Linked DNA regions of Homo sapiens: region 1 is linked to region 2. The links come from fine-mapping of genetic effects on gene expression. A gene starts in region 2. The other region holds a variant in brackets. All regions are shown on one strand. Distances are from middle to middle. Region 1 overlaps NFATC2 (nuclear factor of activated T cells 2). Region 2 holds the start of NFATC2 (nuclear factor of activated T cells 2).

Region 1 (4,000 bases), 27 kb before region 2:
TGGACTGTACACTCAGCCCATTCCCTTCTCTGGAAATTTCCAGGGCCCCAGCCCCTGATGAATGGGTGAGCTGAGCCTCACTCCTCATGCAGCCCAACCTCCAGGCCACAGCCTACTGGACCAATGGGCGGCACCCTCCCAAGACAGGGCCAATCAGCATCTCCCTGAGAATCAGGATTTAGCTCCCATGAGGTGATGACAAGGCTCATACTGGAACAGCATGCAAAACTAGGGGGAATGGAGTGGCCCGCAGGAGGCGTGGGCATTTCCCCTTCAGGCTTTTTCTGCACAAGTGAGAAGGCAGGAAGAGCTGGTCTGCAAAGAGACGTGGATGATCAGATCTACTGTGCTGCAAATAGAGCTTGCGGTATCCAAATCCCAGCTCCACCATTTAATAGCCATAACCTTGAACAAGTCCTTGACAGCTACTTGACCTGTTACCTGCATCATAAGGCTCTTTTGAGGATTAAATAAGTTAACACATATGCAGCACTTGGAACAGGATCTCACAGGCAGCAAATGTTTTCTAAATGTTTATTATTACTATCATCTTGCCAAAATGTAAGCTCATGATGGTGAGAATTTCCAGCTGTTTTGTTCATATCATAACCCAGAATCAAGCACCATGCCTGGTACATAGTAGGTGCTCAATAAACATCTTTTGAATAATCAGTGAATGAAGATGCCACAAAGCCAGAAATGGATACAGATTCTCTCTCCTTAAGACTTAAAATTGTTTGGCCAATGCATTTAATGAGCAGATTCATTCTCCAAGTATTTGTTGAGTGCCTGCTATGTTTGTGGCAGCAAACTGTGCTTGATGGTGATATACAATGAAGAATAAGAAGGAAGTTGTGGTCTCTTTTAAACAAAGCTCATGGTCTAAGAGAGAGAGACATTGACAAAATAATTATGCAAATGTTAGAATTACAAGTAGTGGCAGGTAGCATGAAGGAAAGGTGCATGGAGCTGTGGACACATAAAACAGAGCACTTGGCCAGGCACGGTGGCTCACGCCTATAATCCCAGCACTTTGGGAGGCCGAGGTGGGTGGATCACTTGAAATCAAGAGTTCAAGACCAGCCAGACCAATATAGTGAAACCCTGTCTCTACTAAAAATACAAAAATTAACCAGGCATGGTGGCGCACACCTGTAATCCCAGCTACTCAGGAGGCTGAGGCAGAGGAATCACCTGAACCCAGGAGGCAGAGGTTGCAGTGAGCCAAGATTACACCACTGCACTCCAGCCTGTGTGACAGAGTGATAGACTCTGTCAAAAAATACATATATATATTACATAAGGCAATTGCTCTCAGGATTGGACGGCAGGAATCAGAAGACTGCGGTCCCCAAGGGAGAGGAAGTGCACAGGTGAGCCCACCTTCATTTCAGCTCTCTGCCTGGGGACAGCTCCCCTGCCACGTGCAGGAAGTAGCATCTGAGCAGAGCACAGTGGTCCCGCTGTGCTGAGGATTCCTGAAATAATCCTGGATTCCTGGCACCGCTCAGAGTGCCAGGCTGTGGAAACTGCTGGAATCGGT[G/A]GCATCAGAGAGGAGGAAGCTGCTGGGGGAAACCCTCAACTCTTTGGCCAAGGGCTGGGCTGTGTAAGCACAGGGAGAGATGGTGCGAGGTTTACCAGAGAGGGGCTGCTATGGGGTGGAGAGAACAGAGAGACTAAGAGTGCAGCGGAGCTGGCATATGGGAATTCCAGCCCACCAGATTAAAGAGACCTCCCCACCAAGCATCCAAAATGGCCATGCCTTCAGAACAGGCACATGCCTCAGAGGAAGGGCTACTCCAGGCCTGCCCTAATGGGGCCTAAAACCAATCCTCAAATAAAATACAGAGAAGACAGTTTAAAATCTAAGCCCCATCAAGTTAGATACACCTTGTGCTTTCCACAGATCCACCTGATGAAGCACGAAAGAAAGTTCAGAATGTCTACCACATCCAGTATATATCATCACGATGTCAGAATGCAGTCGACAACTACTAGACAGGCAACACAACAGGAAAATGGGACTCATGGTCAAGAACCAAAACTCAATGAATAGAAACAGATTCCAAGATGGCTATGGTGTCTGATTTAAAAAAAAAAAAAAGCAATTGTCAGGACTTACAAGTTCTTAATATTATCATAGATGTCCTTAATCAGAGGTACACACCCAAAGCACCTGTGGAGATTTGGGGAGTTTGCTGTTTTTCATTTGTTTGTTTGTTTACCTGGGCTTTACTCATGTTATATAGTTTCTAATTTAGTTTCAGAATGCCCAACAATCTGAATTTTTAAGAACCACCCTAGAGGTTCTGATGCACACTATAGATTAAGAACCAAGTTTTATCATATTAATAGGATACTTCTACTTTAAGGCAAATACCAAAAAAAGTTATATTAATTTAAATGTATTAAAGGTTCTAGTTAATTGACTTGTTAGTGGGCACCAGTCAGTTGTTCCTGGTTAACCAGATTATACAATTAAGAATATTTCAACTCCAATTATTTTGGGGAAAAATAGGCACACTTCTCTACTTATTTTGAAAAAAAAATCTGAGGTTAAATCAAAAGCCACAGACACACAAAAAAGCTACTGATTAAGAAAAAAACAAAAGGAAATGCTCATGGCAAAATGTAAACTTAAAAAATCAGAGTACAATCTACATGTTCACTATAGAATTAAGAATAGAAATATATGGTAACAGAGGCTGGCGTGTTTGTGAATAGAAAAAAGAAAGGCAATATATAAAAATACTAATATAGCTATTTTAGGTAGTTTGATAATGTATAGTTTTAATTTTTCTTACTTTTCTATATTTTACAAAAATTACCATTTTTTCTTAATGAACTCTTCATCTGAAACTTAAGGTGATGGTTTCAGAAACCTTCTGTCAACACACAAACCTCTGCAAAACTCTAGCAGTTTCTCCATCAGAAAGAGAAGGGAAGAAGCATCCGGGCACATGAATATCATTTCTATCCTTATCCTGCTGAAGAAGACTTTCTCTTCTGGCTTATGAGTAGCTGGATTAGCTTCTAATGCTAATTTAATCTCATATTTCTCATTCCTCAAAGGAGTAAGAGGCTGAGACACATACCTCACCTTAACAAGCAACAAACAGTGGGTCAGCAGAAGTGAATCTCTTAGTGACAAACACCACACACAAAAGGAAGAGCATTCAAGTCCATACCTGAACCACAGGGTGGCCTCCAGTTGGAGCTTTGACAGCCCCTCGGCTGCCTTCTGTCTCATAGTGGGCCCGGTGATGTGGCTTGGGCTGCACCTCGATCCGCAGCTCGTAAGAGCCTGACTGACTGGACAGCGGCCACTCAAGTGGAGGGAGGGATGCAGTCACTGGGATGCTAAAGGAGAAAATAAAATCAGCCATGTGTGCAATAAACCAAAATTAGTCAACTTGTACAATAATTGTAAACGGCCCTTTCTGAAAATCATGGATACAGTCATGTATTGCTCAACAATGAGGATACGTTCCGGGAAATGCACCATTATGTGAACATCAGAGTGCACTTACACAAACCAAGATGGCACAGCCTACTACATACCTACACTATATGGTATAGTGGCTCCTAGGCTACAAACCTGTACAGCATGTGACTGTACTGAATACTGTAGGCAATGGTAACACAATGGGAATTATTTGAGTATCTAAACTTATCTAAACACAGAAAAGGTACACTAAAAATACAGTATTATGGCTGGGTGTGGTGGCTCATGACTTAATCTCAGCACTTTGGGAAGACAACATGGGTGGATCACTTAAGCCCAAGAATTTGAGGACAGCCTGGGCAACACGGAGAGACCCTGTCTCTACTAAAAATACAAAAAAAATCAGCCAAGCAATGTGGTGCATGCCTATAGTCCCAGCTACCTGGGACGCTGAGGTGGGAAGATCATCTGAGCCCAGGAGGTCAAGGTTGCAATGAGCTGTGATTGCACCACTGCACTCCAGACTGAGGGACCAGAGTGAGACCCTGTCTCAAA
Region 2 (4,000 bases):
AGGATACCCAAAGCTAAAGCAAACCCCTCACCTAACGTGGCCAGAGAGGACACCGATGGAAGCGAAAACTTCATTATCTGCCTAACACAGTGTTTGTGGGAAACATCAGGCCACCAAGCCTCCTTGACAGGCTTCCTCCACGAGCCAGTCAGCACAAGCCCTTCCTACACACTAGATGGAGGCAAGCCCAGAGTGCGTCTGGAAGCTACTAACAGGCCTGCCACTGAGCCTTCAACAAGCATTGGCTGGGCTGGGCTGGGCTGTCAAAATCAGGAAGCCTGGTTGGGTTTTTTGTTTTTTCCAAGACAACCTGCTAACCAGAAATACACAGTGAGGTTGGGCGTGTGGCCGCTTCCCCCTCCTCCTCCTCCTCCCTCTAACGAATGCTCCTGTTAAACACGTGAAGTGACAGATAAGCATTGGGCCCAGCCCGGGGAAGTCCCCAGCCCCCAGCAACTGAGGGCAGTTGGAGGCACAGAGTGACAAAGTTCAGGCAGAAAGAGCCTGTGTCCTTCTGAATCCATGCTGCAGCTGCCCCTCACCCTACCCCATCCCACCACATCCATTAGGACTAAGCGTAGAAGATCACTTAATATAGCTCAGACCAATCCTCTTGTGAGTGGTAAGTGATGGGTTCAGCAGCAGAACCCAGGGAGGAAATGGGCCGGCCTTATAATACCAAAGGTTTTAACCCTCTCCAGCATCAGACAGACAACCTCTTCCTCAGTTTCAACACAAAGTCCCCGTCAACCACTGCTCACAGGAGGTGATGGGAGCTGCGTGGCCTCACTTCAGTGCCTGGAGGGAAGGAGCGGCCTCCTACCCTTGATAACTGGGTTCAGCTGCACCCCCCTTCCTTCTTTTTTTGGCAACTCCTCCCTGCTAACTCCATTCTTCGCTTCCTCACCTCCTCCCTCCAAAGGCACAGAAATCATGTCCCTTGCCCTTTGACAGCCCAGTCCCAGGCAAGAGGCCAGCAGACAGCACCCGCCCCCCAGCCTTGGGACCTGCCTGCCACCTTTTGTTTTGCTGAGAGTGACCCTCAGGGAGCAGTCATGAGCAACCAGAAACTGGTGCCCCTAAGGGGCAAGAGGGAGCCGACCGCCCCCTAAGGGTGGCAGGGGCCACTGACGCCTCCCCTCCCTGGCACCTGGGTAGGGGCACCCTCCCTCCAGGCCCCTTAGGAAGGGGGACGGCTGGAGCCAAGAGGACTCCTGTGCCCAGTCCCCAGGCCTGAGCCCCTGGCGGGCTCAGGGGCCAGGCCAGGGGTAGCCTCCACCGACCTTCGTTCGGATTCAAATACTCATAGTCGAAGAGGATGGAGAAGTCAAGCTCGTCTTGGGGGCTGCCCCCAGGCTCGTGGCCTGGGGCGTCCCCGCCGTCGGGTTGGGGCTGCCGCTCGGGGGCGTTCATGGCGCGCAGGGCGGGAAGGCTGCGGGGCCGGGGGCGAGGGCGGGCGCGGCTGGCTCTGGGACCCCTCGCAGTGGGGCTGGCGGAGGCGGCTCGAGCGGCGGGGTCCCTTTCCTCGTAGGGACGCACGCCGGGTCCGGGGACGGCGCGCCTGGCGCAGCGGGTCCTGGACGCGCCCGGGGAAGCTGAGCGGCGGCGGCGACGGCGGCGCGAGCTTCCTGCTCCGGAGGCACCTGTTGCAGCCCGGGGAGGCGGGGGGGGGGGGGGCGTGGAGGCGGGGACAGGGCGGCCAGGCCGGCGGGGGCGGGGCCGCCACCAGGGGACCGGAGGGGAGGGGCGCGCGGCCTGGGCTGGCCGGTGCCGGGAGGAAGGAGGCTGTCCGCGGACCTGACCACACTGTCCCGGGCCACCGCTGGGCGCTGGGGCGGCCGCTGTCTCCCACCCTCCACGGGTGAGTGCGACACGCGCTGCGCGAACCAGGGTCTAGACAAGAAAGCTGCCGCCACTAGGACTTTTGCCCTAAGGGACCCACTGGCCCCACACTTTTTCCTGCTTTTCTTCTCCATGGGGTGGAAGGGGGTATCCACCCCCTTCTATTGCAGACCCGTGTCTCCAGGCGTCTCCGTGTGCCCACGGGGGCGGCATGATTTTCACAGTACTTCAGACACCTGCATGGCCCTGAACTCAACTCCCCAGCGCCTAGGAAGGAATCGGACTGACAGCACTAGTCCCCCCCGTTACAGCTATGCCTCCTGGCCACCTACCACGTGCCAGGTGCTGGGCACCCAGCCGGAGCCAGACACTGTTGCCCTCGGAAGCTCAGGCTCTGGTAGTGGGAGAGGCCTGAAGGAGAGAAACAGGACAAAAAGCATCTGCTTATGGGGCCAGGAGAGAACTCACCAGGGTATGGGATAAAGGTTGGGGTGGCTTTAGTCCCTTGGGTGGTCAAGGAGGACCTCTCTGAGGAGGTGACATTTGAAGAAACCTGATTGATGAGGCGATCTTGGGGAAGTGTGTTCTGGCAGTGAGAACCAAAACACAGAGCCAGAGCTCGAAGGGGCTGGGTGTGCTGGAGGGAGAACGAGGAGTACAGTTCTGATGGGGCGGTTGGCAAGTGACAAACACGCCTGGCTGCTTGTTTAAAGCATGATTCCCAGGCCCCTCCCTGGAGCTTCTGATTCCATAAGTCTGAATACAGACTCGTGAATGTGTATTTTTAATTAAGCACCCAACGTGAGCATTAATGAACAGGTACATTTGGCAAACACTGCATAAGGACCCAGTAACTAAAGAACACCCTCCAATAAAACTCTGCCAGGGGGCTCCACCAACTTAGCTGAAGTTGGAAACAGACTCACAGAGGTAGAAAAGATCAAAACAGTGGTCTTCAACCCTTCCCACATATTAGAATCACCTGGGACACCTTTTTAAACTCCCGTGCTGGGCTGCAATCCAAACCCACTGAAGCAGAATTCCTAATTTTTTTTTTTTTTTTTTTTTTTTTTTTTGGAGACGGAGTCTCGCTCTGTCGCCCAGGCTGGAGTGCAGTGGCGCGATCTTGGCTCATTGCAAGCTCTGCCTTCTGGGTTCACGCCATTCTCCTGCCTCAGCCTCCCGAGTAGCTGGGACTACAGGCGCCAGCCACCATGCCTGGCTACTTTTTTGTATTTTTAGTAGAGATGGGGTTTCACTGTGTTAGCCAGGAAGGTCTTGATCTCCTGACCTCGTGATCCACCCGCCTCGGCCTCCCCAAGTGCTGGGATTACAGGTGTGAGCCACCACGCCCGGCCTGAAAATTTTTTTAAACTTCAGATGAATCTAAGGTGCAGCCAGTGTTGAGGATGAGAAGATTAGACGGGAGAGGTCTTAAGATCCTCGTGAGAACCACAGCTTGACCTCAAGTGATTCGAATCCTTCCCCATGTGCCAGGAGGAATTGAGGACACGCATTCTTCAGGGGAGCCATCTCAGCTCCATTAAGGGGATTTGTGCCAAGCCATCCATCATTCCACAAATATTTATTGAGCACCTGCCTGGCACTGCCACAAGATGTTGGGGATGCAACCATCAACAAGCCACAGCCTCTCCCTTCATCATGCTTATGCCCTGAAAGCAAAGTAGCACAGTTATGAACGGGGTTTTCAAAATTGCACTCAGACCAGTGGTTCTTAACCCAGACTACACATTAGAATCACCTGGAGAGCTGTTAAAATTTGTATTCAACGACCTGAGCACCACCAGACATCGATTTGATCAGAATGTTTGGGGTTGGGACTTAGGCATCAGTATTTTGTAAAAGCTCACCAGATGCTTCCAATGTGTGGCCAGAGATGAGAACCACTTTGGTTTAGACTCAAACTCTACTGCAGGGGCCTGGGGGCTGGCTCAGGAATCATTTCAGAGTCTTGGGCAGCACCTCCTGGTTGTCAGAGCATAAAGAAATTCCAGCCTTTGTTTCCTAACTATAAGCACTTCTGTGCCATGTGTATCCAACAAGCATCTTGGGGGCAGCTGATGCATTTAGGTGGAGGAAGGAAGAGTGAAGACCCCAGCTAGGATACTTATAGACAGGTATCTAGAAAGAGATGGAT

The links. PIP is the estimated chance that this variant, and not a neighbour inherited with it, causes the effect.
Region 1: its variant is the best candidate, but not a certain one, in a credible set for the expression of NFATC2 in whole blood (INTERVAL, PIP 0.68).

The regions. Positions count from the first base shown.
Region 1 is chr20:51,513,596-51,517,595 of GRCh38, forward strand. NFATC2 (nuclear factor of activated T cells 2) reads right to left here. Exons shown (of 11, transcript NM_012340.5): 3 at 3,189-3,360. Among named protein-coding and RNA genes, the nearest start is that of NFATC2, 27 kb to the right of the region's middle. The variant G/A (reference allele first, on the strand shown) is at 1,544.
Region 2 is chr20:51,541,087-51,545,086 of GRCh38, forward strand. NFATC2 (nuclear factor of activated T cells 2) reads right to left here and starts at 1,633. Exons shown (of 11, transcript NM_012340.5): 1 at 1,284-1,633. The coding sequence starts at 1,413. RefSeq lists an enhancer at 1-603 and silencers at 1,368-1,477, 1,488-1,647.